Linked DNA regions of Homo sapiens. The protein of the gene in region 1 purifies or fractionates together with the protein of each later gene. This does not show direct contact. Each region holds a gene or a part of one and is shown on either strand. Other genes may lie near its edges. The genes, in order: ASB5 and AKR1B1.

Region 1 (3,821 bases):
AGGTGGTGATAGTTTAGGAGGGATCAGTTTTCCTAGGAATATTCTTATATCTTTTGTTCATCTCTTCCTTCCTTTAATCATTCAGTTAGTTGCTCATTTATTACTTACAACATAATGTACTTGCCCAACACTTATTTATGTATCTACCAGGTCAAAGGCATTGTGCTAGGCCCTAAGGATAAACTATAGAAACTAACCACTGTCTTTCCCAACAGTGTACACAGTTTAGTGGAAGAAAGATGGATAGGCAAGTAATTTTAAAACATGGAAATTGCTATTTTACAAGATTAAAGAAGGTGCTATGGGAAGGTGCTATACAGAGAAATGTATGTAGAGCTAAGAATGGTTCTGCCTAGGATATGCCAGTTACACAGAAGCCATACTAACAATACACACATTCTCTCACACAACTAAGCATGCATCCTTATTCACAATGCTCAAAAACTTGCCAAGTCCCCACCTTCACTTCCTACCAACTTTTTCACTTCTCAATTTGTTATTTCTGACTCATATATCTCTTACCTAAAGCTTTATCTTAGGCTCAGAGTTCTGTTGTTAAAAGAATTTATTTTTAGGAAGGACACAAGTATGCTTTGTGAAAAATGGAAAATATTTTGATGAAAAAATTTCAAAATGGATTTTGTGTACTTTGATAGGGGACGTTGATATTGTCAACGTTTTAAAATTTTTTACATAGTAAAGATAGAAAAGGAATGAAAACTAGGTCTTAACTTTCTGCTTCTCAATTTACTATCTCTTTTAGAAGACAGTGAATTATTAAAATAAGCTATTTTTCTTATTCATTGCCATAACTGCTATAGCTTTGAATGTAGCTTAGTTGAATAAATACTGGGATATCTACTCTCTTCCTGGCACAATGTTGTGTACTACATGCACATATACCAACATATCTGTAATATATATAGTATTTAATAACTATAATATGTAATACATAACTAATATATAATATAAAATGCATACTATATCATGTATATAATTTCTGTATTATATATATGTATATGTTTGCCATGTGTGATATATGAGTAAAAGCAGAAGGCTTGGATGAGCGGAGCCAAACATTGCAGAAGTAAGACAACCTAAACAGCAAGGAGGTAGAAAACCATATGGCGCTAAAAGGAAAACAGTCAAGTTTTGCAATTGATGTTCTCCTCTAAGTCAGAAAGGGAAGAGATTGAGGTCATCTGAGACTGTAAGCACTTCATAAATAAAGCAGAGCTTAAGGCAGAAATCCAAAGGCAGAACATATTTGGTTATGTAGATGTGGAGATGAAACCAAGCTAAATATAAAGAAAAAAAGAGGAAAAGTTTAGAATGTGGAGCCAAACAAGGCTGTCTCATCTGGAGCAAAGGTGGAAGTATAAATGTCAGGGATGAAGAAACGTAAGTTGAGTGGTTGATGCTAATGGGAAAAATAAACACACATTTCGAAGCATATATCTAAAAGTCAGAAGTTCTGTTAAGAACTTTCTAATACCTTTACAGGATTCAGCATATGAAAAAGGGTCGCTAGCTAATGACGGAAATAATTACCACCATAAATATTTTACAAAATACTTGGTATAATGATTTAATATGTCATTATGTGTGTTTCATGAAGTACATCTCAGAGAAGATGGAATACCTCCCCAACACTGACTCAGCACTGCGCATCCTCAGAGTGGTTCCATGGTAATTCTGTGGACTTGGGCAACAATTTTAGCAATTAAGCCCATTTTCTAAACTGCAGAGGAGAGAAGAACAATTATCCCCAGTGACAGATAAACCATGCCATTAAAAGCAGGTGAAGTATTTGGAACACCTCTTCCTCCAAAGCCACCCTCAAATAATTTTTAAAAATTAAAAAGACAGAAAGCATTTGCTTACTAGTGATGTAGAACTTTTCGCATTTCTTGCCGACGTGGTGGCTCACGCCTGTAACCCCAGCACTATGGGAGGCTGAGGTAGGTGGATCACGAGGTCAGGAGATTGAGACCATCTTGGCCAGCAAGGTGAAACCCCATCTCTACTAAAAATACAAGAATTAGCTGGGTGTTGCAGCACGTGCCTGTAATCCCAGCTACTCGGGAGGCTGAGGAAGGAGAATCCTTGAACCTGGGAGGCGGAAGTTGCAGTGAGCCGAGATTGCGCCACTGAACTCTAGCCTGGCAACAGAGCTAGACTCCGTCTCAAAAAAACAAAACAAACAAACAAAAACAAACAACAGCAACAACAAAACAAAACATTATCAGCTGCATAGGGAACAAGTCATTTATTCTTTCCAGCCTTCCCTCAGCAATGCTACAAAGCAGACCATTGGCTTTTTAGACTGGAAATGCCCAAAGAATATCATGTCAGGGAGGGAGAGGCTTAAGGAGTATCATAAATTGTTAAATGAATACTGAAAGAATCTTCCAGGTGGTCTGTGATTAAACAAGTCCACTCTGTGAAATTTAGGTTAAAGGTGAACATTTATTAGATGATTTTTTTTCTCAATCCTCATTCTACAATTCCTCATTGGTTACCATGGAAAAGGATTTTAAAAATCTGTCTTATAGATTTAAGATAGATTAATATCCCATATTTAAGGTAGATTTAAGATTTTTCTAGAAGGCCGTCAGGGGCTCAGAAGCTAGGGTGGTGTGAGGGGGCAAGGTCCCCATGGGTCCCCTTCCCCCTTTCGAACAGAACAACTCTACTTTCATAAATCTTCATAAGTTGGGCTTTAAAATAGTAATAATTTTTTCTTCAAAGAAAGGGATAAAATAATATTTAAAACTAGACTGTCCCAGTTTATGGAAAATATTATTTGTTACACATATCTTTACAGAACCTAACCATCTGATAATATGAGTCATAGCTGAATATCCTTTCGAAATTCTTTCCTAGGGATTAGATGAGCAGCAAACATTTGGGGCCTGTCAGGCATGTACATAACTATGTGAAATGTCAGGAAGGCATCCTCTCTCTATCAGGGCAGCTAAAATTTCCATGCCACCGGTACCCACTGAGTAAAATAGAAACCTTCAGAAATACACATACTCTTTCCAGAAGGCTTATAGTCTTAAACTATGGGTAGAGTACAAACAAACTGAAATTTAACACCAAAATGCCATTCATGTTTTTAAATAGAAGCACTGGCTCACCTCAGCTGTCAAGTGTGCAGTGTGATTTAAATGAAAGCTGACAATGATAAAATTTAAGTGAAGGCCCATCCATTGGAAATCTGCTCTTCACCATCATAATGCCGCAAAGTCCCTTGTGAATTAAATCAGGTAAGGCTGTCAAAGTGAGAAAGGAAGCAATCCTTCTTCTAAAGCAGTCTCAAGACTTCTTCTAAAGCAGACTCAATGCACTACAAGAGCTGTTAAATAATGACCATGGAAACAGCGGTGACTTTGGTAGTGACTCAACCCCTCAGTAGCAACCAAATACATCTTTGATTAGCCACTGAGGAGATTTATGTGCACTTATGTTTTCCAAATTCTACTTCATTCACTAGAGAAATGGTGTTTCCGTCATTCATCAAGTAAAAGTAATAGTTCATTTTTAGAATGAAATGATGCACCTAATGAATTCTTGAATTTGGAAGTTTTGTGTCTTACTTCCATCTTGACCTGTGATCTAGAATCATGAATTTGGAAAAGGAAAAAGTGCTAATTCTTTAGAGCTCAAATACACAGGTCGCAGATCTGTTGCATCCAGGAAAGAATAAATACTTCATTGTAACTCCAAGAACTAAAAGAAAAGGAGTGAAATGAAACTGTAAGCATCTCTCTCCTTCTCTCTCTCTCCCACCCACCATAGTTATGATGAAAATGCTC
Region 2 (3,821 bases), on another chromosome or scaffold:
CAGGAAATGTGCATGTTGGGCTAGATAATATATGGAACGATGGAAACAGTCCTTCCTTTCCAGAACCTCCCAGGGAAATGATACATTTTATTTCATTTCAAAAAACACTACTGAGCACTTCTATTGTGATAAGTTGCAGTGAGGAATATAATTATGGGTAAGATGTGTCTTTGCCTCTATTTTATGAAGCAAACAAAGGGCAGAGGTATTTCTACAACTGTAATACAAATAACTAATCACACACTGTATAAGACACTCAACAGCACAGGAAGGGCAGAGGTATTCCAAAGGGATTCCAGCCGGGAAACTGAACAACCACAGCCGAAGAGGAGATGGTATTTGACATGGCCTAAGAAGTATAAGATTTTGACAGAGAGGGCAAGAAAGGTATACTGGGAGAAGAGAACCACCTGCATGAAGGCAGCAGACGGTACAGAACTCAGCTGGCATGGAGGCTGGGAGGGAGGGAGGCAGGCAGGCACCACTGGGTGAGACCCACAAGAGGCTGACACACACTCCCAGAGCCGAAGGGCTCTTAGCTTCAGATGATCACAGAATGTGCAGAAAGAGAGTCTGCTACAGGCTCTGTGGTTATGATCACAGAAAAATGTGCAAAAGCTATACAGTAAGATGCAAAAATAAAATAATTAGGTTAGCATTTTGAGATTAGTCATTTATTTTTTCTTTCCTAATTCCTTAAAAAATGAAATACGAAACAAACGATGCATCTCTGGTGGGATATGCCTTTCCCTCAGTGGCCACTGTTTTGCCATTTTATCTTGTGTACTTAGAACATCTACCTGCACGTAAGAAGAAAAACGTCTCCTCTCCTAAACAATGAGCTCCACTTCCCTCTTCAGGGATCACTCTCATCCCTGTCTCATATGTGACAGGTGGCAGGCACTATGGCCACAGTCTTTGGGCAGTGGAATTGGGCAAAATCAGCTGCTCACCTAAGCTGGGGCCTGCCCAAGAGCCCCAGGCCCATGGCTGTGCTGCGCTCGGCACAGATCTTGGATAAAGACAGAGCATCCCTGGCAGAGCCACTTTGCTCAGTGAGAACAGAGGCTCTTGGGCCATCAGGACTCCCCTGAGCTGCTCTCCTTTGGGCGTGCCCCCCCCCTCCCCCACACCCCCGCCACCAATGCTGCAAGGGCAGGCAGGGAGGGAGGTGGCGCCAAGTAGCCTGAGCTGCTCCAGCTGCCACACTGAGCGCTTCGCCAGAGTCCTGACACAGGTCTAGGCTCTGCCCATCATCACACGAACTCCTTGCAGAGCTGGTGAATGGACTAAATGGCCCAGAGGGTCCTTTGCAGTCCCTGGACTTATCAGCACAGCAACATTTCTCGATCACTTACTAAGGTATTAAGCACCATGTGAAGTGCTCTGATGCATCACTTAATCTTCGTAACAACCCTCAAAATGGATATTATTTTATAGATAGGGAAGCTGAGGCATCGAGCAGTTAAGCGACTTGCCCAGGGTTATGCAGCTGGTAGCTGACAGAGCTCCAGTGCAGGGCAGGTCCAGGCAGTGAAGCTCAAGAGCGAGATTCTCCCCGGGTAACCTCTCGGTGTGGCTGAAGGGCCTGAGCAAAGGTGTAGGTGTATGCGTGCACAGCACGGGGCCCTGGAGGCCCAAGGCCTGCCCCTGCACACGGCTCCACTGGTGAGGTGTCAGTCTCAGTCTTGGCTTGCTCGCCACAGCTCCCTGGCCTCAGAAGAGAGGATGGTGGTGATCCCACAGATGACACTCCAGAGACAGGATGAGAGGCCTCCCCCATCCCCCACTCCATGGAGGAGGGCCAGGCCTGACCAGCCAAGATCTTACCTTAAAGTTCTCAGCAATGCGTTCTGGTGTCACAGACTTGGGGATCACCACCAAGTTCCTCTGCATGGGGAACCGGATCAGGACCTGTGAGCCCAAGGAGACAGTGAGTGTGTATACATGCCAGGCACTCGCACCCATCATCTCAGTCTCTCACACACACAACCTGCAGAAGGACGTGCTAGAACTCCACAGGTGATCAGAGAGGGGCTCCAAGATGTCAGGTCACAGCTAGCAACAGGTAGGCGACGCATTCAGGTCCAGATCTGACTCCAGAGTCCTGCGCTAGCCACTGTGCCACACGCTTCAGTGTCTCAGGCATATCATGAGACCACATGAGGCCCTCCACTGGCTAGAAATGCACACTACCACTCAGGAGAAAGAACATTCCCTGCACGGCTAAGAGCTCTTACATTTGTACAGATGAGGTTCCACATGAATGAACAAGCGCTGGCCCTCGTGGCAGTCACCCTTGCAGTAGTGGGGGCAGGCACTATTAATCTAAGAGCCCATGCCAGAGTCTTCTAAAACCCCGATCTGTGCCCTTTCCACTCTGTACTTGAGGACCCCTAACCATACTTCCTGTGAGGGTGTAACAGGCTCAGTCACTTCCTCCTCTTGGCTAACAGGACTGTCAGGAATGCAGGCAGTTGTGGACGGTCAGCAACACCTGAAGTGGCTGTACCTGGGCTGTAGTTTTATTGTGCTTGGCTGCGATCGCCTTGATCCTGGGATCCTCCAGGAGAGAAGGGTCCTCGGGCTTGGCCCTGAGGATAGAAAGACAGTCCAGGTCACACCATCATGGCCACCACTCACAGCAGCCAGAAACCCCAACCCTAATCCTCCCATCGACCTCAGAGGGCAGCCACCAGTCTCCTCCTCAGAGCTGGGTTAAGAACCCCCAACCCTTTGGAAAAAGAGTAGGTGTCTTGCTACTAGAAACTCCAACCCTTCCAGGAAAACCAGCAAGAGGCTCAGGGGAAGTTTTGCAGATCACCCCCAGAAACATCTTCCTTGAGGCTGAATTGTTCTTTTTAGTCTTTTCTAATCTTCACCAAGTGACACAGGAGCATGAGCCTGTGGGAAGCTCACCAGGGCCTGTCAGGAGAGCCGAGGGGGCTGTAGGCGGTCACCACGATGCCTTTGGACTGGCAGTACTGGATTAACTTCTCCTGAGTGAGATATGGGTGGCACTCAATCTGCAAATGCAAAAACAAGAGCTGATGGGAGCACTGTGGCTACACGCTGATGGGACACAGATGAAGCTTCCTATGCTAAAGTCCCTCCCTACCCCATACAGAAAACTATGTATAACAAACACCCTATTTCCCAGATAAGCTGTAACTTCCTACAGTTCCCAGGTAGTATCCTTGGTGTTATTATTATCTTATTATAGATGTTCTCATGGGCCCTAGAGGCTTTTCTTGGCTTTAGCCACTTATCAACTATCACAGTTCTGAGGATCTCATGGCTGCCTCTTTGTCAGACCCCAAATCGTCACAAGCCAGGCTCAAACTCTTTCTTTCCTGTAAGTTTCCTCTCCCAGATGTGCTGTGTCATGCTGAATCATAACTCAGGACTCTGCCAACACCCAGGAGCTGCCTCCTGGCCACTTGCTGGGTGAGGTGGACGAGAAATCCCTACCAGCATCAGACAGTAAAACAGCAACGTTGCAATGCCAGTGTCGTTGGGGGATGTTTACCTGGTTAACTGCAGGCTTATACTTCAAGCCAGGTTTGTTTAAGATCATCTCCACCTGGAGATGGTTGAAGTTGGAGATGCCAATAGCTTTCACCAGCCCTTCATCCACCAGCTCTTCCATGGCCTACAGAGAAAAGTGTCTGTGTGGTGCAGAAACGAACCCAGAAAGGACAGGATCAGAAGTGTCGTTTGCACCAGTTTAACGGGTCCTGCCCTCACTCTTCAGTGCCAGTGAATTAGACCTTTCAGAAGCTAAGAGACAGTGAGACGAAAGCCAGGCTGGCTTTAATGAG

Evidence for each region.
Region 2: the proteins of ASB5 (region 1) and AKR1B1 purify together in Homo sapiens (affinity purification with mass spectrometry, with the first as the bait; one large-scale study listed by BioGRID). This does not show direct contact.

The regions. Positions count from the first base shown.
Region 1 is NC_000004.12:176,259,064-176,262,884, reverse strand, and holds part of ASB5 (ankyrin repeat and SOCS box protein 5), read left to right. Parts: intron 1-3,821. UniProt on the Homo sapiens protein: May be a substrate-recognition component of a SCF-like ECS (Elongin-Cullin-SOCS-box protein) E3 ubiquitin-protein ligase complex which mediates the ubiquitination and subsequent proteasomal degradation of target proteins.
Region 2 is NC_000007.14:134,445,468-134,449,288, forward strand, and holds part of AKR1B1 (aldo-keto reductase family 1 member B1), read right to left. Parts: intron 3,653-3,821; coding exon 3,530-3,652; intron 3,027-3,529; coding exon 2,920-3,026; intron 2,595-2,919; coding exon 2,513-2,594; exon of another isoform or gene 1,915-2,512; coding exon 1,831-1,914; intron 1-1,830. UniProt on the Homo sapiens protein: Catalyzes the NADPH-dependent reduction of a wide variety of carbonyl-containing compounds to their corresponding alcohols.